4 linked regions of the Homo sapiens genome follow. The protein of the gene in region 4 purifies or fractionates together with the protein of the main gene of each other region. This does not show direct contact. Each region holds a gene or a part of one and is shown on either strand. Other genes may lie near its edges. The genes, in order: YKT6, NAA50, PMVK and ARL6IP6.

What was found.
Region 1: the proteins of ARL6IP6 (region 4) and YKT6 purify together in Homo sapiens (affinity purification with mass spectrometry; 3 studies listed by BioGRID and IntAct, with this or other methods). This does not show direct contact.
Region 2: the proteins of ARL6IP6 (region 4) and NAA50 purify together in Homo sapiens (affinity purification with mass spectrometry; 3 studies listed by BioGRID and IntAct, with this or other methods). This does not show direct contact.
Region 3: the proteins of ARL6IP6 (region 4) and PMVK purify together in Homo sapiens (affinity purification with mass spectrometry; 3 studies listed by BioGRID and IntAct, with this or other methods). This does not show direct contact.

Annotation. Positions count from the first base shown.
Region 1 is NC_000007.14:44,210,970-44,214,824, forward strand, and holds the end of YKT6 (synaptobrevin homolog YKT6), read left to right. Parts: intron 1-53; coding exon 54-155; intron 156-584; coding exon of another isoform or gene 585-599; exon of another isoform or gene 600-639; intron 640-1,277; coding exon 1,278-1,313; 3' UTR 1,314-3,325; downstream 3,326-3,855. UniProt on the Homo sapiens protein: Vesicular soluble NSF attachment protein receptor (v-SNARE) mediating vesicle docking and fusion to a specific acceptor cellular compartment. Functions in endoplasmic reticulum to Golgi transport; as part of a SNARE complex composed of GOSR1, GOSR2 and STX5.
Region 2 is NC_000003.12:113,722,228-113,729,265, reverse strand, and holds part of NAA50 (N-alpha-acetyltransferase 50), read left to right. Parts: intron 1-5,170; coding exon 5,171-5,307; intron 5,308-5,724; coding exon 5,725-5,844; intron 5,845-6,293; coding exon 6,294-6,360; intron 6,361-7,038. UniProt on the Homo sapiens protein: N-alpha-acetyltransferase that acetylates the N-terminus of proteins that retain their initiating methionine. Has a broad substrate specificity: able to acetylate the initiator methionine of most peptides, except for those with a proline in second position.
Region 3 is NC_000001.11:154,933,720-154,940,840, reverse strand, and holds the start of PMVK (phosphomevalonate kinase), read left to right. Parts: upstream 1-4,121; 5' UTR 4,122-4,155; coding exon 4,156-4,250; exon of another isoform or gene 4,251-4,393; coding exon of another isoform or gene 4,394-4,446; intron 4,447-7,121. UniProt on the Homo sapiens protein: Catalyzes the reversible ATP-dependent phosphorylation of mevalonate 5-phosphate to produce mevalonate diphosphate and ADP, a key step in the mevalonic acid mediated biosynthesis of isopentenyl diphosphate and other polyisoprenoid metabolites.
Region 4 is NC_000002.12:152,756,601-152,762,915, forward strand, and holds the end of ARL6IP6 (ADP-ribosylation factor-like protein 6-interacting protein 6), read left to right. Parts: intron 1-3,146; coding exon 3,147-3,240; 3' UTR 3,241-5,796; downstream 5,797-6,315.

The sequences.
Region 1 (3,855 bases), on a different chromosome or scaffold from region 4:
CATGTCAGGGCACGTACTGAACAGAGCTGGATTCTCTTTTCTTTTTTGTCCAGCACAACACCATGGAGTCTCTGTTAGAGCGAGGTGAGAAGCTAGATGACTTGGTGTCCAAATCCGAGGTGCTGGGAACACAGTCTAAAGCCTTCTATAAAACTGTGAGTACCCAGCACCTGCTGCCTCCTGGGTGTTCTCTCTAGAGAGCAGTCGCAGCTTGCTGCTTCTGGCACTCTCCACTATGAACGGGTCTTTCTTAGACTGTTGAATCATGGTGGATGATTCCTTGTGCGGCAAGAGCCTAAGGTGAGCGCCTCAGGCCCAGGTGGTTGGAGGCAGTTCACTTGGGCGCCGTTGGAGTCGATGCGGGCCGAGGCCTTGTTCCACTCCTGCCTCTGCTCTGCCCTCTGCTGCTCTGGCTGATTTCTGAACTCCTACTCCCAGTCCAGGAAGGCTGGTTCAAGTTCTGATCACCAGAGATTTACTGTTGAATCTTATTCCTCTTTCTGCTGAGTAGACATAAGTCTTTAAGATGCAAGCAATTCAGCCTTCCTGAAGAGGTTCTTAAGCTTTTAATTTCCCTTTGACAGAAAATATTTAATTGACAAGGATGGGTGCTGCTGACTGCCGCTTTCTCTCAGGTCAGTGCTCATGTCTTCCTATGTGGAGATGGCACTGTTGGCCCATGGTTGGATAGTCATAGGGACAAATTTACTTGGTCTGTCCACACACATTTGCTTTCATGTGCACATTGGAGGGAGATGGCTAGGTGGGATTAGGAAGATAGTCTGTGACCAGAAAGCAAGAGAGAAGGTGGCAACAGTGGTCCCCACAAACCACATCCCAAGTGGGAACCACATCTGTTGTCCTCAGGACCATCTTCTAGGAAGAAACACCACCGTGGTGGTCAGATAGCATTGTGTGAAGACAGGAGTGGGGCAAAGTTAAGATATTCTGCCAATCCCATTTGTATTATTGGTCCTTTGTTTGTACCTGGCCTAACTGTAGGAATTTTACTCACTTTTTGATAGCATTAATGGGGTGTGAGAAAAGAAAGGAAAAAGGATCCCAGACTAGTTTTGGAAGCCGGGGCCCGCCTTGTGCTTGGTGATGGGAATTGCTTGTGGACAGCTTCCCTCAAGGCCTCCACCCCCACCCTGTTCTAGTGCTAGTTTCTCTGCCTGGCTGTGTCCTGTGGAGCTCCCTCTGCCACGCCTGCCAGGATTGGGGCTTCCCTTACTTCGTCAGTCCTCCTTCTCAGCTCCTCTTTGTTTTTTTCCAAGGCCCGGAAACAAAACTCATGCTGTGCCATCATGTGATGCAGCCTGCCAGAGGCCCAATGCTGGAATGGCACCATCATTCACATCAGAACTGCAGCCCCTGGAAAAGAAGAGACAGCCATAGACGAGGAGCCAGAGTGGGGGCAGACTGGCCATTTTTATTTTGAAGTTCCTGCGAGAAATGGATGGTGGAAGGGTGGCGAATGTTCAAATTCATATGTGTGGTAGTGATTCTTGGAAAGAATTTGAGGTCCCCAAAGGTGTATTTTTGGGCAAATGAAACCATAAACTCCGACTGGCTTCTGTAGATGCCAAAGGGCTCTTTTTCAGCTAACCCTGGGAAGGCTCTGTGGGAGGGAGGTCGGAGCCAGCTGTTTCTCGATCTTTGGTATATCTTTGGATCTTATTTGTACATTAATGATATTAACACTCCAGTGGGGGGTGGGGAGTCCCTGATGCTAGGGCTGGGGTGGGTGGAGTTTGAAGACTCTTGGGAAAGCCTCTCCTGGGGCCACTGTTGGGGGTGGGAGTGAGCCCACCACAGAGGCCACAGGCAGGCCCCCACTTCAGGCCCAAGGCCTGGGGCGGGGGGAACAGTCACTGGGTCTCAGATTCTGAGACTGTTGTTTAGCTTACCTTTCTGCTAGGATTGGCTTCCCGCAGAGGGCAGGGCCCATCCTAAGCAGCTTCCAAGTCCCACAAAGGTGGCTTGTGGGAGGATTTGGAAGGAGCTGCATTGTGGGCGGGGAGTGTGTGGGTTGGGTTCGTACCAGCAAGTAGACTAGGAACTGAGCCCAGGAAAGGGGGATGTTTTCCTGGTGTTTGGATGGTCAGCTGGGAGTGTCCATCATCAGGGGAAGATCAAACACAGGTGCACTCAGCTGCCCAGGGCCTCTGGGACACTTGCCTTGACTTGCAACTTGCCTTGAACATCACGATCAAAGCAGCAGGTGCTGTGGTCTCTCAAAATTGATTTTTATTTGACTCTGTGGCTCTAAGACTGCCTTGAACCGCCTGAGGCCTATGCATCTGAACAAGTGGGTCTCTCCCTTGAGCACCAGGAGTGGGTGCCAGCCGGCCCCGAGGATTCCCAGCACCCCACCTATGGTCTTGCCAGCATAGGCTTGCTAGTTCCTTCTTGGTCAGAGGTAGCTGCAGAGGGGGGAGGCCAAGGGTTTGGTCTAAGCTGTGCCCTGCCACCTGGCAGGAGGCCCACTCACTGCCCAAGTCATGGCAACAGGCTGGAGCAGCCCAGGAGATGGGCCTAAAATGTTCTGGATCCCTTGGGTCCTAGTGTTATGTTCCAGTCTGCCCACCTGTGCTCAGGATGCAGCCCTGGGATCCAGCACCCATGGAAGCTTCTGCTGGGATGGTGTCACCTATGGGTTTTGAACCAGTGTGGTATGGTCCTTGGGAGCTCTGCTCTGAGCTTGCCACACTGCTGAGAGCACCCACTGTCCTGACCAGAGTCTCAGTGGTCCTGACCCCCAATGTGGGCAGGGGCTGGGCAGGAGGGTGGGGTCTGCTGTGGGTTCAGAGGACTCCACCTCCTGGCTGGTTTACCTGCTGCTGCCCATTTTCTCTGGGTACTGCTGGCCAGAGGACTTTAGCCTACCCCTGAAGAGCCTGTCCATGTCATTTTCCTACTGCCATAGATACCCTAAGCCCAGGGCCCCTTGAGGCCCAGACTCAGCCTGCCCACTGGTGCCGGAGACGGAGTGGAGTGGGCCTGGATCCGAGGGATGCTACCTCTCCCTTTCCCACTTGAGGACCCTGGGGAGAGATGGGGGCGGGGAAAATGGAGGTATGAATTTGGGGTAAGAGGAAGTGAGATCTCCGCTTGCAGGTCAGCCCCTGCCTTGCAGGGCGGGCTGGCTTGACTCAGGCCCTGTGAGATAGAGGGCCCAGCCCAGCCCCACCCACAGATCCCCTGCTCCTGTTGTGTTCTGTTGTAAATCATTTGGCGAGACTGTATTTTAGTAACTGCTGCCTAACTTCCCTGTGTTCTATTTGAGAGGCGCCTGTCTGGATAAAGTTGTCTTGAAATTTCACAGTGGTCCTGTGCTTTCTTTGTGCTTCAGGGGAATCCTTTCTTCACCAAGCCCTTCCCCCGGGGGAGAGAGTGGCCTCATGCTGTGTGCCTGTGGGCCTGCCGCATGCAAGGGTCCAAGTTATCCTGACCAGCTCCTGTCCAGGAGAGGTAGCTGCAGGCCTGACTCCTTCACCTCCTTTCTATAGACCTTGCTAGCAGGAACTGTATTTTCTTTTTTGCTGTTAACCAGGTGAGGGAGCCCTGGAGTAGAAGAAGCCCTGTCATTGCTGAATCCTGTTGCCTGGTCTTAGCTGCAGCCAGGAGACCCACCCTAGGAAAGCTGCCTCATAGCTGCAGAGCCATGGGACAGGAGGCCCCATCCCCATCCTGATCCCGCTGTAGGCTTCCTGTCCCTCACCGCTGACCCCAGGGTCAATCTGAGACCACCTGGCATCCCACCAAGCACAGGTGGCAACTTTTCAGGAGCAGAGGGGGCTCCACAGGGTACCTGGAAGCTTCCTGGTTCCTGGAGGAGCCAAAGCTGACCCC
Region 2 (7,038 bases), on a different chromosome or scaffold from region 4:
ATAATCCCAACACTTTGGGAGGCCAGGGTGGGCGAGCCTATCACTTGAGGCCATAATTTCAAGACCAGCCTGGCCAACATGGTGAAACCCCATCTCTACTAAAAATACAAAAATTAGTTAGGAGTGGTGGCACATGCTTGTAATGACAGCTGTTTAGGAGGCTGAGGCAGGAGGATTGCTTGAACCCAGGATGCGGAGGTTGCAATAAGCTGAGATTGCACCGCTACACTCCAGCCTGAGCAACAGAGGGAGACTCCGTCTCAAAAAAAAAAAAAAAGAAAAGGAAAAAAGTGTATCAAGAGTAAGCCTTTTTGAGATACCATGTGAACAAAGACTTGGAGTTAACATATACTGCAGCCAAGGATGGAGAGGCCATCAATTGACAGGAAAAACTGCAAGCAAAGCAGATTTTGGAACAAAGATTTGAAATTGTTTGCAGTATGTTCACTTTGAAGTGTCTGCTGGAGATTGCTTGGATCTAGGAATGTAGAGTTCAGGAGTGAACTATAGGCTAGAGACAGAAATTTGGAAATTGGCAGCATTAAAGCCACACAACTACAAGATTGAATGAGATCACCAAGAGAATAATTATAGAGAAGATAACCAAATGCGTCCATATACGAGGCCGTCATAAAATTGGTTCTTTTTCAGCTTCCGCATTTATACACAAGCATACTTGATGTTTTAGCCATATCAAACTGACTGATTTTCGGACTACATCACTGCTGTTTTGTTCATGTTTTATTAGACTGCATCTCTTGCCCTTCCACAGGATAAGCTAGTCGTTCTTCAAAATGTTTCCCATTGTCACCTTCATTCTAGTATTATTTTTGTACTATATGTACATACACTGTTAGTAGCACATTGTATATACCTGTCTTTCCTACCAGATGTAAACACCTTTGCATTCCAGATGCATAACACATAGATACTCAAATATTTATTGAAATATAATTGATTTATGCTTTAGGCAACTCTATTATGTTCATAAGAACTTTAGAAAAATTTAGATTGACAGAATTTTTTAAATCTCCATTAGGTTAGTTTTTTAATAGAGAATTTGGACTTTTAACTTAATTTTTTATAGGTTATTCTAACTAAAACCTTTTTGGTTGTTTACATTCAAGTAATGTTATTTTCTTGACATGTCTACATATCCCTTATGCTTATGCCTTTTTTTTTTTTTAACTCCGTGTTCCTTGCTAACTTATATTTACAAGTTGATTATAGTACTTTGATATATTTAGAAAATCCATGTCTTAAAATAATTTGGAGCTAAGTGATCAGGATTACAGAAGTATTCCATTTCAGTCAGACATATCATGTTAATGAGAGTTAAACTATATTTGAAGCTCAGTTTTGCTGACAAGGTTACATTAAGTGAACATTTTGAAATTTTTCTAGCATATTTGTTTCTTGCAAAAATCAAATTAATTTCTCAAAAACAGCTTAATTTTTCCAACAGCTACCAAACAATACTTAAATCTCAAATTTGTTTAAAGCGTGTATATACATATATATAACGCGCATAGAAAAATATTGGAAGACTATCAGCAAACTTATTTCTGGCCATATTATTGCAGGATATTTTCCCTTTCTACGTCATTTCTATGGTGTGCTTTAAAAAAAAAAAAGGCATGTATTTTTTTAATTAGTTAGGGGAAGATTAAGCTGCCTATTTCCTAATGGTTCAATATTGTTTTCTCTATTTAGGCTTTATCTGGCCACCCTAATGGAAACTTTTTTTAGTAGTTAACTTTTATTAGACTCATTGTAGCACAGTGCACTATAACCACTTTTTCTTCTTGTATGAAGTCAAGAAATACCTGGTATTATTCTTTGAAAACTGTAAGTATGCTTGAAGCCTAGTTACTACCTACAAATGATTCCTAAAGTTTTAAAAACCTCAAGTTCTTTCATTTATACTTTAGAAGCTTGACTTTGTAGGTTCTTAAGTTACTATTATTGTTGATACTTCAACTTCATAATGTAATTTTAAATCACTTTTTAAATACTAAGACTTTTTTTTAAATGAGATGCTCTAAATTAATACAAACTGTATATAAAAAAATTACTACACCCAACTTGTGGCACTATGGTAAGTTAAACAGGAGACAGTGTAGGTAAGATGTGATCCCTGTCAGCTACTGCATTTTTAAAGGATCCTATATTTTGGCCAGGCACAGTGGCTCACGCCTGTAGGCCCAGCACTTTGGTAGGCCAAGGTGGGCGGATCACTTGAGCTCAGGAACTGTAGACCAGCCTGGGCAACATGGTGAAACCCTGTCTCTACAAAAAATTCAAAAATCAGCTGGGCGTGGTGGCATGTGCCTTCCTCAGCTACTCGTTAGGCTGAGGTGGGAAGATCACTTGAGCCTGAGAAGCGGAGGCTGCTGTGACCTGTAATTATGCCTGGGCAACAGAGCAACCCTGTCTCAAAAAAAGAAAAATAAAGGATTCTATAGTTTACAGGATAACAGTATCCACAGATTTTTCTTTCTTTCTTTCTTTTTTTTTTTTTTGAGGCGGAGTCTTGCTCTCTCGCCCAGGCTGGAGTACAGTGGTGCGATCTTGGCTCACTGCAACCTCTGCCTCCTGGGTTCCAGTGATTCTTCTGCCTCAGCCTCCCGGGTAGCTGTGACTACAGGCACGTGCCACCACACCGGGCTAATTTTTGTATTTTTAGTAGAGACAGAGTTTCACCATATTGGCCAGGCTGGTCTCAAACTCTTGACCTTATGATCTGCCCACCTTGGCCTCCCAATTTTTTTTTTTTTTTATGTGAATGGTAGATAGTGGGGAAAGTGAGCCCAGTAGATTTTAGTCAGAAAAGTGTTATGAAGAGGGGGAGTTCTGTGAATGAGATGTAATCTACTTAAAGAAAACATGAATTTCATACAGGGAATTCATTATAGTTGTCAAATACTTGGGATGAGAAAAGACTATACTTAAGTGACTAGAAGTTGGAAGAGACTATAACAAGAAAATGTCTATTTTTTTATTTTTACTTTTTTAAACTTCCTATGGTGCTGAGGGGTTTTTTAAATATATAAATCTCTTACCCTTTTACTAACATGTTTGTTTATTTAATCTGTGTGGTTGCTAAGAAACTATGTTCAGATTTTAGGAAGACATACAAGACATGAAAAGATCATTGGTTGCAACAAATAATACAGATTAGTGGTATAAAAAATAATCAAGGCAGGAAGGATAAAGTTCCAAATGAGCTAAGCCTTTCAAAACTGCTAAGTATGACAGAAACGATGCTTTATGCTGTCTTTTGTGTTCTTCATACAGACTACTTAAATAGGGGGTAAAAGTCTCTTGTTTTTGCCTCTAACTCCTTACCAAGTAGAATGTTCTCCAAACTGGGCATTATAGAGTAATACATCTTAGAGAACTTTGTACTATAAGATAAAATATTACATCATATTCCTCTCCAGATAAATCAAATTTAGAAATTTCTTTTTTTATCTGTAATTATTGCTGTTTTTTGTTTTGTTTTTGAGACAGTCTGTCACCCAGGCTGGAATGCAATGGTACACAATCATAGCTTACTGCAGCCTCGACCTTCCAGGCTCAAGCAGTCCTCTCACTTCAGCCTTCTAAGTAGCTGGGACCATAGGTGCACGCCACCACACCTGGTTAAGTTTTTTTAAAAAAATTTCTTACAAAGTTTTGCTATATGCCCAGGTTGGTCTTGAACTCCAGGGCTCAAAGGATCCTCTCACCCCGGTCTCCCAAAGTGCTGGGATTACAGGCCTTCATGCCCAGCTGTTTTTTTTTGTTTCTGTTTTTGTTTTTTTGCATTTTAATCTAAATTTTAACATTTCAAAATACAGTTTTTAAAATTACAATTTCTACTACAAATTAAAATCCTTTCAAGCATGTTTTTGTATATGTTAACAAAAGTCCGTTGTTAAATATAGTTGAAATGTGCTTTTTCTCTACAAAACACAATATGCTACAACATCTTTTTGGGCAAATAATACGGATGGAGCAAAAAAATTGTAGAATGCTGTCAGGTTTGCCTTATCACATTTGATCCACCTTTAACAGTATTGAAGTTCACTTCAGCTATTAAAAATTCTTTGTTTACAGCTCTGCAGGCAGAATACCTTTGATACTTTGTTAGAAATTGGAACTGAAAATTTTTCGCTTTAATCTTTTCCATGGACCCAATTGTTTTGATTACAAGTGGTTTCTTAGGAATGCTCCTTTTATTAGTCCTTTCTCATGCTGCTAATAAAGACATACCCGAGACTGGGTAATTTATAAAGGAAAGAGGTTTAATTGACTCACAGTTGCGCAGGGATAGGGAGGTCTCAGGAAACCTATAAACATGGTGGAAGGGGAAGCAAACACATCATTCTTCACATGGTGGCAGGAAGGAGAAATGAGAGCGAAGTGAAGGAAAGCCTCCTTATAAAACCATCAGATCTTGTGAGAACTCACTATCACGAGAACAGCATGAGGGCAACCGCCCCCATGATTCGCCGGGTCCCTCTCACAACATGGGAATTATGGGAACTACAAGATGAAATTTGGATGGGGACACAGCCAAACCATATCACTCCTGTTGCTTTCTTAATGGATAGTTTTCATCCTGGGGTGATTTTCAAGATGGTGGATTCCTTTGTTTCGTTTCCAGCAACTCTGGTTCTGAAAATGGGGTATGTGTATCCAGGAATGTGAATTTTGCATATCACCTCTGTGACTCTGATGTAGGTAGTTCATAGACCACGGTTTTCATGAATAGAATGTGCATGGTATTGCATACCTCCATTGTTTTCTTAGAATAAATTACTAGAAGTAATAAGATACTTGGGCAAAGGAACTGTAATTTTACCAGAAATAGGTGTATCTAAATTTTTCTGAACTATGAACTACAAGGAAAATTTTGACACTTGCAGAATGTTATTCTGGCCTTTGTAGTAGTCGTTGTGTACCATATTTGTCCCTGAATGTATGTAATTATATGAAAGCTATGAGTAGAATTTGTATTGAATGACTGTCAAAATTTGCTTATAAATGATAATTTGCTTATAAATCAACTCTGAAAGAGTTGGATTTATCAATCATGTAAAAAAGACTTGGTACCCCTTTCATATGTTCATATTAACAAATGGGGCTAATTATGTTTTATTGAGTACATTTTGATTTGTTCCAGTAGCCGGATCGAGCTGGGAGATGTGACACCACACAATATTAAACAGTTGAAAAGATTGAATCAGGTCATCTTTCCAGTCAGCTACAATGACAAGTTCTACAAGGATGTGCTGGAGGTTGGCGAGCTAGCAAAACTTGGTATAATATAGTTTTTTTTTTGTCCTCCCTTCTTTTCTTTCTTTTTGTTCTTGAACCCTAGTTTTTTATAGAGCAGAAGAAGTTAACTAATTTAGTTTGTTTATTTTATAAGTGAGGAAATGGGAGTGGTCTAGGTTGTGAGAAAAATCTCAGAGAAATCAGTTGAATAAAACAGTTGAATTTTAAAAAGAAATGCTTAGTGTTCTTAGTGTATACCTGTGTGTTTTCACTTTAAGCTATACTCTAGAGGAGGCTTAAACTTCCTAAGATGGCATAAGAGCTTTGAGATCATTGATATTCATGAAATAGTTGATGAAATTTAATGTTGATAGGAACAGTGTAGTCCTTTAAAAGGGAAAAAGATTAAATGTGTTATTCTGTCTGTTCAACATTATATCTTTATGTTTTCCTTGGCAGCCTATTTCAATGATATTGCTGTAGGTGCAGTATGCTGTAGGGTGGATCATTCACAGAATCAGAAGAGACTTTACATCATGACACTAGGATGTCTGGCACCTTACCGAAGGCTAGGAATAGGTAAAAAATTGTGGTTTTTTTACTTCTTCAGAGAAGCATAAACATATTATTTGTTAATGTGTCTGACCTAGTAAGTTAATTTGGGTCTTTTTAAGGAATACTGAGAAAGGGTTACTGAATTATGTAAAATATGGTGAAAAATAACTAGTGTTTATTAACATAATTCTATTGGAAGCCCTACATAGATTTGCTGTTTACGTCCCCTTCTGCTTTTTCTGTTTTTCTTCTACCCGGAAGTGCTTGTTTAAAAAGGTTAGTCTTCTGCTAACAGTTTTAAACATACGTAGCTATTGTAGAGAGAGAACACAACTTTGGAAAATAAGGATATCTAGTGTATACCTCATAAATTCTTTTAGGACTCAATAAGTAGTTCAGATGGCAAGTGGATAGATACATAATTTAAAGGTTGATTTATGAAGTCACGTGTTTGTTATTTATTTTATTAACAGGAACTAAAATGTTAAATCATGTCTTAAACATCTGTGAAAAAGATGGTACTTTTGACAACATTTATCTGTAAGTAAAATAATATTTAATGTTCTTATCAAAGGGGTTTAATTGGCAGGAGAAATCTTTACTAGAAACTTTAAAATCTGGTCACTTATTGTGCCTTTGGAAACACTGTGGAAGTAGTTGTTACAAAGTATTCGAGTAGTTGTTAGTTTTGTTTAGTTTTGTTTTATTAATAATAGTAGATTAGGAACCTGAGATAGAACACATTGCTTTATTATATTAGGATGAGAGCACCAAAGTCACAGGGATGAAATCAGGATTAAAACTCAGGCCTTCAGAATTCAAGACTATTAATACTACTTTTCTCATGCAAAACCTTGTGTGTTTTGTTCAAGGCTATGTTGATAGCTTTGAACATTGTAGTAGATCATTTGTAGTAGAGTTTAATAATCAAAATCAGAGATTACCTAGCTGAGATTGTACTTGAATCTCAAGAGGCTGTAGATAAAGAGTTATGACTAAGATCACAGTCATGGATGTTCATAATTTAGTTTGGCCATGTGAGAGATTGAATTATACAGTGTTATTTTGGGAGTAATTGAGAAAGCTTGCGTTTTTAATTTTTAAAACATACCATGTATTTTATCAATCAGAAGGAAGATATATCTTCAAGCTTTGAGACCCTAGTTTTTTATTTTTCATCATTTTTTTTCTGTGTGTTAATAGGGCCTTTTAATAATT
Region 3 (7,121 bases), on a different chromosome or scaffold from region 4:
TGGTTCCCCGATGTGGCAGGAGCTGGCGGGAAAAGATGCTAACTAGCATTCAGGTCTCAATACTGTGCTAGATGCTGTGGGGCCCCCCAATCCTTGCCCCGAGGCTAATTGGATTAGCTGCATACAAAGCAGAATTTTAATAGTACTCTCTTAATGGTGCCAGGAGCAGTCTGCCAACTGGGTGAAGAGGAAGAAAGGGGTGGCCTTTGAGTTGGATCTTGAAAGATAATAGGATTTCAGAGATGGGAGAATGGGGGAAGGTATTTCAGGCTAGGCAAAGGTGAGGCCTGAGGTAAGGGTGTTATAGCCTATAGCTAGATGGTTCACAGAGGGGGCAAATTCTGCCACTGGCAGCCTGCAGGTCTGAGGGGATGGCTACTGTAGGAAATGGGAGGGGTGCCACTAATCCTCACCATTCCCCCCACCCTCCACTTCCTCTCCAGAGCAGGGCCCCTTTGCAGGAGTTCTCACCAGCATGGGGCACTTACCTTCGCTCAGCCCCAGGGGAGGCATTCAGCAGAGGGGAGGGTCATCCATTGAGGTCATCACTGAGACTCTGTTCAAAATCAAAGGGACAGGTCATCTGGCTAGAGCAGGATAGGCAGACACCTGAAGCCACATGCTGTGGAGAGGAAAGTGCTAGATAGCTCCCTTTGGAAGGTCCATTGCCCATGGGTCAAACAGGCTGGCCATCAATGCTTGCTCATCTGGAATGACAGGACTAGTCCAGAAATAGTGGCATGAGGCCAGCAAAGGAACAGGCTGGCTGGGCGCTGTGGCTCATGCCTGTAATTCCAGCACTTTGGGAGGCTGAGATGGGAGGTTGGCTTGAGGCCAGGAGTTCGAGACCAGCCTGGGAAACATAGCAAGACCTTATCTCTACTAAAAATTAAAAAAAAAAAAAAAAGTTTAACTCAGCATGGTGGCACACACCTGTAGTCCCAGCTACTCAGCAGGCTGAAGGTGGAAGGATTGCTTGAGCCCAGGACATCAAGGCTGCAGTGAGCTTATGATCCGCCACTGCACTTCCAGCCTGGGCACAGAGTGAGACCCTGTCTCAAAAAAAGAAAAGAAACAAGCCATGGCTGTCATCTAGGTGGATCATTAACTTTTCTTTCTTTTTTTTTTTTTTTTTTGAGATGGAGTCTCGCTCTGTTGTTCAGGCTGGAGTGCAGTGGCGTGATCTCTGATCTCCGCTCACTGCAAGCTCCACCTCCTGGGTTCACGCCATTCTCCTGCCTCAGCCTCCCGAGTGTAGCTGGGACTACAGGTGCCTGCCACCACGCTTGGCTGTTTTGTTTTTTTTTTTTTGTATTTTTAGTAGAAATGGGGTTTCACCGTGTTACCCAGGATGGTCTCGATCTCCTGACCTCGTGATCTGCCCGCCTCGGCCTTCCAAAGTGCTGGGATTACAGGCATGAGCCACTGCACCGGGCCACATTTAACTTTTTTCCCCTGGGTTGTGGAAGGCAGGCAGAGCATGTTATATAATGTAACCAGTTCCACCAGCTAGTGGACTTGGGAGGGAAGTGCTACTTTGGGGAGTATTTGAGCAAGTGACCTTGGAGGGTTGGGTGGATGAGCATGTGAGTTTGCAGGTTGAGCAGCTTCTGGTGATGACAAAGCCCAGGGTGTGTCCATAGGAGCTGGCCTCTGAGGAGGAGAGGGGGGAAAAGGCTTTGAACAGCCAGGGCCAAGGGATTGAGCAGCGGGGTGTTGGATGGGCTGGCCATGACCGTGATGTCACCGAGGATGATGACAGCAACTCTGTAGAAAAGGAGACTGGGAGCCAGTGGCTGAGTCTCAGAAAATGAGAATGAGGCTGGGTGCAGTGGCTTACACTGGTAATCCCGGCACTTTTGGAGGCTGAGGCCAGAGAGGACTGCTTGAGCCCAGGAATTCCAGACTAGCCTGGCCAACATAGCAAGACCCCGTCTGCATAAAGAAACAAAAGAAAATGAAAATGAACCACCAGGATTGCTGGGCTGCCAGTACTGAGGAAAGCAGGAGGGTAGCGCAGGCAGGTGGCATGAGCCTTAGAGGAACCATAGTTTTCCAAGAGGCAGGATGAGTAATGGTGTGGAAATTAAAATGGGGAGGAAGGGAGGCCATAGACTCAAAGCGGATGCTGAGGGATGAGGGCTGGGAGACTAAAGCCTCCACTTGAGACACCAGTAAGGGACAGTGGAGTTCAGTTGAGGCATACTAGGAAGCCTAGTATGGGGGAAGTTTTTTTTTATTTTTTGAGACGGAGTCTTTTTCTGTTGTCCAGGCTGGAGCGCAGTGGTACAATCTTGGCTCACTGCAACCTCTGCCTCCCAGGTTCAAGTGTTCTCATGCCTCAGCCTCCTGAGTAGCTGGATTGCAGGTGCCCGCCACCACGTCCAGCTATCCAGCTAATTTTTGTATTTTTAGTAGAGATGGGGTTTCACCATGCTGGCCAGGCTGGTCTCGAACTCCTGCCCTCAGGTGATCCGCCTTGGCCTCCCAAAGTGCGGAGATTACAGGCGTGAGCCTGGGGGAAGTTTTCTGATCGCTCACTAGGTATTCAGGGAGCTGGATCTCAGAGTCAGAGAGGGAGGTAAGGGGCGTGCATTGGGTCAGGTGAGGAAAGAGACTCCGGGAGTAAGTTCTGACTCCTTCCATGTGACTCAGGTAAAACAGGAGATGTGGACTTTCCGTGGAGGCCCAAATACATGTTTATTGAAGATGAGCTGGAAAATCTGATTCTGTGTTGAATGACGAAGTGCTAAGAATAAATAACAACCCCTTACATCTGGATGATACTTGAGAACTTACAAAGTATTTTATTGTACCTTGTCATATATTTTCTTCATTCCTTTCTTATTATAACCCTGGGAAGTGGGCCTTATCAGTGGTAAACTCAGAGTGACTTGCTAAGTGTCCAAGCTGGGACTGAAAATCCACTCTGTGCTGCCTTCTAGGGCGTTGATGAGTGCAGTGTTTTCTGGGTTGCTGAAAAAAAACAAAAAAAACCCCAAAAAACAAAAAACCACCTCCTTAAGTCTGTTCTTTTTGCATCTGACCACTCTCCTGTGCCTCTTTTCAACATTCAGGAAATTAATGGTTTCTCCCTAAGTCTCCACACTACACTTTTTCTCTAGTGGAGGCAGTAATGAGTTGCAGGCTCTGTTCTGACATGCTCAGAAAAATGCAGGACGGCAAGTCATAGCCAAAAACAACTCGACGTACTCAGCTGGGGCAACCCGTCACCTACTGCGGGAAGAGGCAGAACCGGGGATGCAGGGAAAGGACAGATTATTCTTATCCTGCCTCTCAAACTTCTGGCTGGGAGCCAGACTTCGGATGAAACCAGGCAATCTCATCTAGGGATTCAACGCTCCCTTACTATTGATGTCACCCACGCCGTTTGCTTCCGAAAACCTTTGGGCCGGAGGCTGCGGCTAGAAAAGCAATCAAAGGTTTCTCGCCGGGCTTAAAGGGCCACATCTTAGTGACGTCTCGGGTTATAAAATCTGCTTGACAATGAAATATCGTGTGCGCGATTCTGCTCCTCCCCCGACATGACGTGGCCAGACACGCCGCTCGCGTCAGGGCTGCCTTACGCCCCCAGGAAGACCCATTCCCACTCTGGGGCGCGCGCAGATTTGCTGTGGCACATGTACTATAACGCACAGGCAAAAGGGCAGTTTCCAAAACGTCTCCAACGTGATCTCACTCCAGAGATTTTTTTTCCTAAAGTTTTAGGGCTGCGCGGAAGGGAACATGGGGTTCACCTCAGGAAATTTCAGACGTCACCCCCCTCGGAGGAAGGTAGTCGCGTCCGGTTCCTCCCCGGGTGTCAGTTAAGCAGGCCAGGCTGTGAGCGAAGGTTCTGGGCGGGGCTGGACTGTTCTAAGTGAGTTCGGGTGGGGGAGCTTCACGAGGGGAGGCTGCTCTGTGAAGGAACCGCCTTTCTCTCCGCGTGTCTCACCCTTTTCTCCCCATATCTGTTTGGACATGAGCTGAGGGCACGGTCGCGGGCGGTCAGCCCTGTTCGCAGCTACGGCGAGGAGGGGCGCGATTGTTCCTTGTTGCCGCTCCGCTTAGTGGCCGCGTCCATTCCGCGCGGTGTCCCGATTTTAGGGGTAGGGAGAAGTGTCAGCTTCAGGCATCGCGAGGCGTGGCGGCCCCATGGCCCCGCTGGGAGGCGCCCCGCGGCTGGTACTGCTGTTCAGCGGCAAGAGGAAATCCGGGAAGGACTTCGTGACCGAGGCGCTGCAGAGCAGGTGTCCGTGAGGCGGGAAAGGTGGAAGGGGGAGCTCTCCGCATCACGTGACACGAGGAGTGCTTTTGGGTGTCACGGAGTGAGCTTTGGAGTACGGGTCGTCCGTTTGCAAGGCAGGAGGAGCACTGGGCTGGGGAAGGTGGAATGCCACCATTACATAAAACAGTAGTCTACACAGGCGAGCCTCAAAGAAGCAGGTGACCACCTCTCCAAAGACCTTCAGCTGCAGGTCTCTCTGAGAAGCATTAATAATGGTTCCTACGAAGGCACTTTCTATATACCAGGCGTTGGATACCAGCCTGGGCAACATGGCGAGACCCCGCCTCTACGAAAAATCCAAAAAGTAGCTGGGCGTGGTGACGCGTGCCTGTGGTCCCAGCTATTCAGGAGCCTGAGGTAGAAGAATCGCTTGAGCCCGGGAGGCGGAGGTTGCAGTGAGGCGAGATTGGCCACTGCACTCCAGCCTGGGCGACAGAGCGAGACCCTGTCTTAAAAAAACAAAACAAAAAACCCTCTTCACCTCTTTGTTAGGTACTGTGTGCCATTATTAGCATCTCCATTTCACAGGTGAAGAAACTGAGGCTCTTAAAAAGTTAAACAGGCCGGGTGTGGTGGTCATGTCTGTCACCCCAGCACTTTGGGAGACAGAGGTGCGAGGATGGCTTGAGAGCCCAGTAGTGGAGACCAGCCTGGGCAACACAGTAAGACCCTAGTCTCTACAAAAAAATGGAAAAGTTAGCCTAGTGCGATGGCGAGCACCTCTAGTCCAAGCTACTCAGGAGGCTGAGGTGGGAGGATCGCTTGAACCTGGGGGCTACAGTGAATTGTAATCATGCTACTGTCCTCCAGTCCTTGCAGCAGAGCCTGAGACCCTGTCTCGAAGTAAAATAAAATAAAATAACATACGAAGTTAACAACAAAAAACCCTTGCTGGTCACAAAGTAAGTGGCAAATCCAGGATTCAAATTCAGCTTTGTGGTTCATGATGGGCATCTCAGCAATTAATATATAATTGAAACAAAAAGAAAAAAAACCCAAACAAATTCAACTTTATCTTGCGCCAAGGACTGGTTTCTTTCTGTTTTATCTGGCTGCCTCCCCAAATAATAATACCTTTTGCACAGTGTTTTCTGTCAAAGCAAGATCTTCTGTGCAGGAGCATTTTGCTGAGACCTGGGCTAGGAGAGCAGAGGTTGGGGAGAAAGTGGGGCTCCTCTCCTCTTGAAGGCCAGTGTGGTGGGGGTACCAGGAAGCTGCTTTTGGGTACCACGGGGGTTCTATGAAGGTGTGGGAGAGCCCAGAGCAGAGGTCACCACCTGAATTTTTCATCACTAAGTATCTCACCACCTTTTCCTAAGTTGCATTTCTCCTCACCTCCAAACCCTGACGTCAAATAGTGGTCCGAAGCACAGGCTCTGGAATTAGACTGCTGGGATGCAAACCCTGGCTCACTGTTGATTAGTGTGTGATCTTGTACACATCTGTCATTCACTCTGTGCCTCATGTTTTTTTTTTTTTTTTTTTTTTTTTTTTGAGACGGAGTCTTGCTCTGTCACCCAGGCTGGAGCGCACCCAGGTTGCGGCTCACCGCAACCTCTGTCTCCTGGGTTCAAGCGATTTTCCTGTCTCAGCCTCCCGAGTAGCTGGGATTACAGGTGTGTGCCACCATGCCCAGCTAACTTTTGTATTTTTAGTAGAGACAGGTTTCACCATGTTGGCCAGGCTGGTCTGGAACTCCTGACCTCAGGTGATCTGCCTGCCTCGGCCTCCCAGAGTGCTGGGATTACAGACGTGAACCACCACCGCACCTGGCCTGCGTCTCAGTTTTGTCATCTGTAAAATGGGGATGATAATAGGGTGGTTGTGGGGATTAAATGAGATAATGTGTGTGAAGGGCTTAGAATAATTATTGGCACCTAGCAGAGGTGCAGGAACTAAATGTTGGCTATATTTATTTTACCAATCTTGGCTTCACTACTTGCAGTGTTGCTTTGGGGGAGTCAATCCTCCTTTCACAACCTCAGCTTCCTCATCTGAAACATGAAAATAAGAACACTTACAGCCAGGGCAACATAGTGAGACCCCCTCTCTACAAAAGATAAAAAAAATTAGCTGGGTATGGTGGTGCATGCCAGTAATCCCAGATACTCAGGAGGCTGAGGTGCGAGGATTGCCTGAGCCCAGGAGTTCAAGATTGTAGTGAGCTGTGATCATACCACTGCACTCTAGCCTGGGTGACAGCAAGACCCTGACTCTTAAAAAACCAAACCAAAACAAAACAAAGAACACTTATCGTTGGGCGCAGTGGCTCACGCCTGTAATCCTAGCACTTTGAGAGGCCGAGAAGGGTGGATCACTTGAGCTCAGGAGTTCGAGACCAGCCTGACCAACATGGTAAAACCCTTCTCTACTAAAAATACAAAAATTAGTGGGACGTGGTGGCGCCGGCCTGTAGTCCCAGTTACTTGGGAGGCTGAGGCAGGAGAATAGCTTAAACCCAGGAGGTGCAGGTTGCAGTGACCTGAGATTGCACCACTGCATTCCAGCCTGGGCTACAGAGTGAGACTCAGTCTCAAAAACAGCACTTATCTTCCTGTGCGTTAAGTGTATTGTGAGCATCTCAAGGCTAGGACAGGAAGCATGTATCATTCACATTTGTATCACCTAGATCCAAATATGGTACCCAATAAATGGTTGGTTAAGCCAGGAGGCAGAGGTTGTGGTGAGACGAGATGGTGCCACTGTACTCCAGCCTGGACGACAGAGTGAGACTCTGTCTCAAAAAAGAGAAAAAAAGAAGGGCCGTGTGCGGTGGCTCACGTCTGTAATCCCAGCACTTTGCGAGGCTGAGGCGGGCGGATCACGAGATCAG
Region 4 (6,315 bases):
GAACTCTATAAACCAATAGAAAAAAATGAGAAAAAGTTTTGAACACAAACATCAAAAAAGAGGCTTTCTGAATGGTCAGTAAGTACATTAATCATCAGAAAAATAAATATTAAAACCACTACAACATACTCTGCAGACCTACTAAAATGGTTAAAATTTATAACACTGATAATACCAAGTGTTCATGGTGATGTGGAACAACTTAAACTCATACGTTGATAGTGGAAGTGTAAATTGGTACAACTATTTTTCATACTTTCTACTAAAGCCTAATGTATATCTACCTTGTAACTCAGCAGTTCTACTCCTAGGATCTATCCAAGAGAAATAAGTGCAGATTCCCACCACCCACCGAAGACGTGTTCATAGTACCTGTATGTATAGGAGCCCCAAACTGGAAACACCCATCAGTAGTAAAATGGGTAAATACATTTTGCTATATACTGCAGTAGAAAAGAACAAACTAATACTACATACAACATGGATGAATCTCACAAAGACAGTACTGAGCAAAAGAAGGCAGACGCAGAAAAATATTTATTGTATGATGCCATGTAGATGTAGTTTCAAGAGCAAGTGAAACTAATCTTGGTGACAGCCCTCAGTATTGCAGTTACCTCAAGATCTGCAGGAGGTAAGTTGAATATTTAAAAGGGATCTTTTTGCAGTGCCAGAAATGTTCTCTATCTTTATGTGGTTGGTGAGTATATGAGAGTCTACCACAGTAAAAATGCATTGAACTGTATATAAATGTTAGACATTTGCATTTTACTGGTATGCTTTAATTAAAAAAGTGAAATGCATGTATAGATATAGATTGGATGAGGTAGACATTGTATTTAATTATCATTTATTGAAGATATTAAACTCATTAATTGAAGATAATATTTTCATTTTACTTGAGTCAATTTTAAATAAGTCCTCTATAGAGTTTTGACAAAGGAGAACCATAATTCCTTCAGTCTTTGTTAACAGACTTTAGAGATCACAAATGAGAGTCACAAGAGAGAAAGCCTGCAGGGATTGTCTGTCTTCCTCCAAAGAGGAAAATCATGGTGAATATTTTGAAAAGCTTTAAATTAAAGCAAGTGATTCTTCAAAGATTTAAGTCCTTTACCTAGCAGTAGTCTGTGACAATTGCTACAGTGTTCCCAGTGGGAATATGGTACATTTGAGATGACAAAGACTAGGAACCACTACTCCCGAGCATTTTTTCATTGCCATTAAAATGCATTGCTTTGCCTGCTTAGTAAGGAAGTCACTGAACATTTGAGCATGTACATCTCAGTAAAATTCAATTCTACCAACATTGTAGTTGTCGGCTTAGTAAACTGAACTTTAAAGGTTTTTCTATTTTTGTGGGATTGTGAGGATCACAAACTACTAAAACAGAACAATTAACTCTGGAAACCTTTTGATGATTAACTTTATTGGGTGAGTACAGTCATCCCCCTTTATCTGTGAAGGACTGGTTCCAGGATTCCACACAGGTATCAACATCTGAGGATACTTGAAGTCTCATTCAAAAATGGCTTAGTATTTGCATATAACCTAAGCATATCCTCTCATATACTTTAAAACATCTCCACATTATTTATAATATTATACCTAATACAATGTAAATGTTATATAAATAGTTGTTTTATTGTTCAGGGATTGACAAGGGAAAAAAGTGTATACATGTTCTGTACGGATGCATTTTTTTTTTCAAAATATATTCTACCTGCTTGGTTCATTTCGCAGATGTGGAACCCACTGATATGGAAGACCGAACTGTATTAATTTAAAAGTTTTTTGGATCGTCACTAAATATTTTATGATGAATGATAATGCTGATTGTTCAACTTTAGGTTTCTGTTCACTAGTCATCAACATATATTTGAGGAATTTCTTTTTTAAAGGGACAAAGCATTATACCTATTTTACGATGTAGATAGGTAATATAGGTAGGTAGATTAACCCTTAATAACACATGAGAAGCATCTTTGACTAGCCCTAGTTGGGTAAAGAAAGGTTGAGTCGAAAGTAAATAATAACTCCCTTGGAACAGAGCAGGGAACCATCAGGAAGCATCAGGGTCTATGTAGCTTCAGATGAATGCAAAGGGCTCTTCTTTGAAGAATGTACCTTCTTCAATCTCTGCCACAGATATTGTGCGACTGGAATCACTATGAGGTGCTCTTCAAGTGTTAGTTCACAGCTAAGTGCTTCTCTGGCTTTGGCTACTCCTTAGGAAAGGAGGAGAGGATATGGGTATTTATGACCGTCTCAGTCCAGGGCCCTTACTGCTTTTGTCTTTTGGCTTTTACTTCTGCTAGTGCACCTTCCTGTGTGTCCTCAATTTGTTTTGCTCCAGAAAGGAGAGTATTCTGTTCTGCCTTCTAGAGAGTCTCAGTTGGATACTACCTTCTTTTCTTTTTAATATGTCTGATTCTTACTAGGATAAGCAAATAGTATTATTGCAATACAGTTAGTGGGAAAAACTGTTGTAAGATTGTTACAAGATAAAGGAAACAAATGTCAGGGAATATTCATGCACATAAGAGTTATTAAACTAGTTGGCACTCCTAGCAATCATAAAAGAGATGTGTCTTTGCTGATTCTTAAGAACTCATTGAAAACCACTTCAATTAAGTAACCTATTAGAATGATAGCTGAAATATCTATGAAAGACATAGGGAGTTCCTTCATATAACCTAAAAGTGGTGCAAACAGAACAAATACTTGAAATAATATGTATTTTAAGTCAAATCAAAGTAAGAACAGACAGCATGGAAACACACCGCTAATTAATGAAAGAACTGTTTGTAAAATAACAAAACTTATACCTTAGAATTAGGTTATGGCTACACACAGTGACAATGAAACACAGTAAAGAAATAATAGGGATGAAACTCAGCATTACTCATCAGTAATGATTTGAAACAACTGTAATTGTTAACCAGTACAGTTTTGACACAGGACTTAATAAGATCTATCCACTATTTATCCTGCAGATGTCCAATATTCTTTAAGTTTTGTATTCATATGTGAACATTTGGGAAATACACTCCAAGGTCATAAGTATTTTCGATGAAAACTTTTGGTGTCTTTGTTATACCACGTTACATTTTTCTTTTTTGATTTGTGTTTTTCTTTTTTTCTAGGAAACTGACTGGACATTCTTTCCACATGGGCTATAGCATGGCGATTTTGAATGGCATCGTAGCTGCTCTTACTGTAGCATGGTGCCTCATGTAAACCCACACTGGAGCGATATTGTTGGCAAAACTTAATCATGATTGTTTTGTAATAACAAGAAGGAGCATCACTGTCTACTCAGAAGACTGAGAAACCTGCTGTTCATTATGTAGTTCAGATATTTATCACAATCATCCTCATTATGGAAGACCTTTTAAAGCATTGTTTTAGAATGTCTGAGTATTAAGATACAGATTAATTGGGAATATCTGAGTATTAAGTACTTTCTTCAGAGTATAAGATGTTTACCTCATCTTTTTACTTTTGTGTGTGTAGTTCTTTCAAGTTGTAGGAAACATTTTAATGGAATTTAAACTCAAAAACTTGAATACAGGACAATGCTTGCCTTTTCATGTATGTACTACATTTTTTGCTAAGAAATACTGATATTTCTGTTTAGTTGAGCTAGAAATACTTCTTATTTATACATTTAGGAAAGCAAATAATGCCTACTACTCCGACTTTTATAGAAGCTACTTTTAAATCAGAATATTTAATTTTTGATATTCATATAATTAATAGAAGTTGCATTTATATTTTTTATGGGGCATAGTTCCTTATGTGTTTTTTTAATGTATTTTCATACTACATACTGAATTTGTATGTTTTTAAAATTGTTACATCTAGACAACTGTAAACATTATTTTTTTAGCTAGTGCAAACCTAGTACCTGCCATTTTTACTAATTTTTGTCTTTAAAAAAAGCAAAAAAGCACATTGACCTAAGTTGAAAATTAAGTAAGTTTATTTTTAACAAAAAATGCCTGAAAAAAGCTAAATTATTTAAGTCATTAAGATATTGAGAAAAAATTTGAAATTTTTACTATTTCTGTTTCCACAATTCCAAATATTTATCTTGGTGTATATATTGTTACTTTAACAGAACTTGCATTATTTTGTTTTTAATAAATATAAACATGAAATTTTTGTATGTGAGAATGATTGAACTAGTTTGTTCTTAATCTCAAAAATTTAGTTACCAAAGTAGAAAAGGTATTTTGATACTAGATATTAAAAACTACATATAGTTAATATAATTTTATAATTTTTGTAATTAAATGTGCTCCTGTAATTGTGATATTTTGTTTTCTAAGTAATTAAGCCTTAATTTTTCCCCTATGTTACTAAAGACTTTTAATGTTTAGAAAGTTACCTCAGTTTTAGAAAGATGGACTACTTACAAAGCTGTTTTCCCTGGCCATAGGAAAACTTACAATAAGAAACCATTAAGTAGTCAAACTGCTTATTCAGGCTAAGTGGGAAATGAATTTGTGCAGTGTGTTCCCTTAATTATCTACTGAATGTTGTTACCGACTAAACAAGGTTTCTAAAAGTCTCGCATTTCTTTTACTATTCAAAACTCTTTGGTTGGAAATGACTAATACTGCTCCAATTTAAATTATCTGAAATGTGTGTGTGTGTGTGTGTATCTAAATATCAATCCCATGGCTTAAGTATTCCTACCAGAGTGGTGGTTGCCATCAGTCTATTTTCACTCCCTGCCTTCCTTCCTGCACGCTTAAACTCTTCACCCTTTGACTCCAAAGAGCCCTTTCATTGCAAAGATGTACACAAGTAACAGAATCAATTTATCTTCTCTCCACCACTCTGTATTCCCACGCACCACCAATGTGAGTAACTCCCTCCAGATTGTTTGTGTCTAATGACTAGGAAAGTTATTAACAGTAGACCCTAGATAGAGATATGTACACCCTAGACAGTCATGTGCCATATAACAACGTTTTGGTCACAACGAACTGTACTTATGATAGTGAATCCCCCCGTAAGATTATACTGCTGCATTTTTTACTTTATTTTTTCTCTGTTTAGATACACAAATATTTACCATTGTGTTACAGTTGCCTGCAATATTCAGTACAGTAACATGCAGTACAGGTTTATAGTCTAGGAGCAATAAGCTATACCATATAGCCTAGGTGTGTAGTAGGCTATACCATCTAGGTTTGTGTAAGTATACTCTGATGTTCACACAATGATGAAATTGCCTAATGACGCTTTTCTCAGAATATATCCTTGTCATTAAGCCAAACATGACTATATATACCTACAAGATATATATTAATATAGATAAATATAGAGAGAGATGTATCCGTAAGATATTTTTGTGGAATCCTAATTCTTCTGGACTGTTACTCCCCTTTTTTGGGAAATGACCCTCCTCTCTCCAGTCTGACACAGGGTCCAAATATAAATCATCTATATGCAGAATGATTAGGCAAGGATAGTCACCTAACTCTGGCTGAGCTAATCCTAATCTCATTTTGCCTGGCTACAATGAGTAGAATAGAGAAATGACTTCAGTGAAGTATGTCTCTTCCCAGGATTTTTCAGCTTGAAATTAAGATGTGACGAAGCTGGGAAAATGCAAGCCCAGGAAATGCTGGCAGCTGTAGTTCAGCCAGGCTCAGTGGGAAAGAATAAGGCTGATAACGGATATTGCTAATGGCGTTACCCTGGTCCCTGAAGCCCAGTGGCAATCCTGCCATTCTTGATACGTGAGTCAATAAATTTCTGTCTTTTGGCCTTTGCAGTTTACATTGGCTTTTGTCATTTGCAACAAAACAAGTCAAAATGAGCTTATCTAGCAGCTGGAATCCATCTCTATTGTGAAACTGACTCAGATGATCTCATCTCCTTATGTGTAGCTTACAGCATTCTATTTAGTTACTTGTGAAAGATAAACGGGGTGTAAGTATTCCTGTGGCTAGTGATTAGTCTCAGGGACTTGAAAAGACATTTTAGAATAAATTAAACTATTATTAATCTTGCTGTTTCATCAAGAAATTATGTCCCCAAATTCAGTTCCACCTTAAGTGTTATCAGAAAGAATATTACTGTAGTTATCAAGATATGATTCTTTAGTTAATACAACGTAATGAGTTTGAACTACAACTGTTACTTAATATCTTAGCATTTCCCGGTTTCCTTACCTGTCGAATGGGAAGAATAATACTTAACAAAATACTTAAACTACAGTGAAAATACTACATGTCAGAATTTGTAGGACCTAGATAAAACACTGTGTAAGGGTAATTTATAACTTCAAATACATTT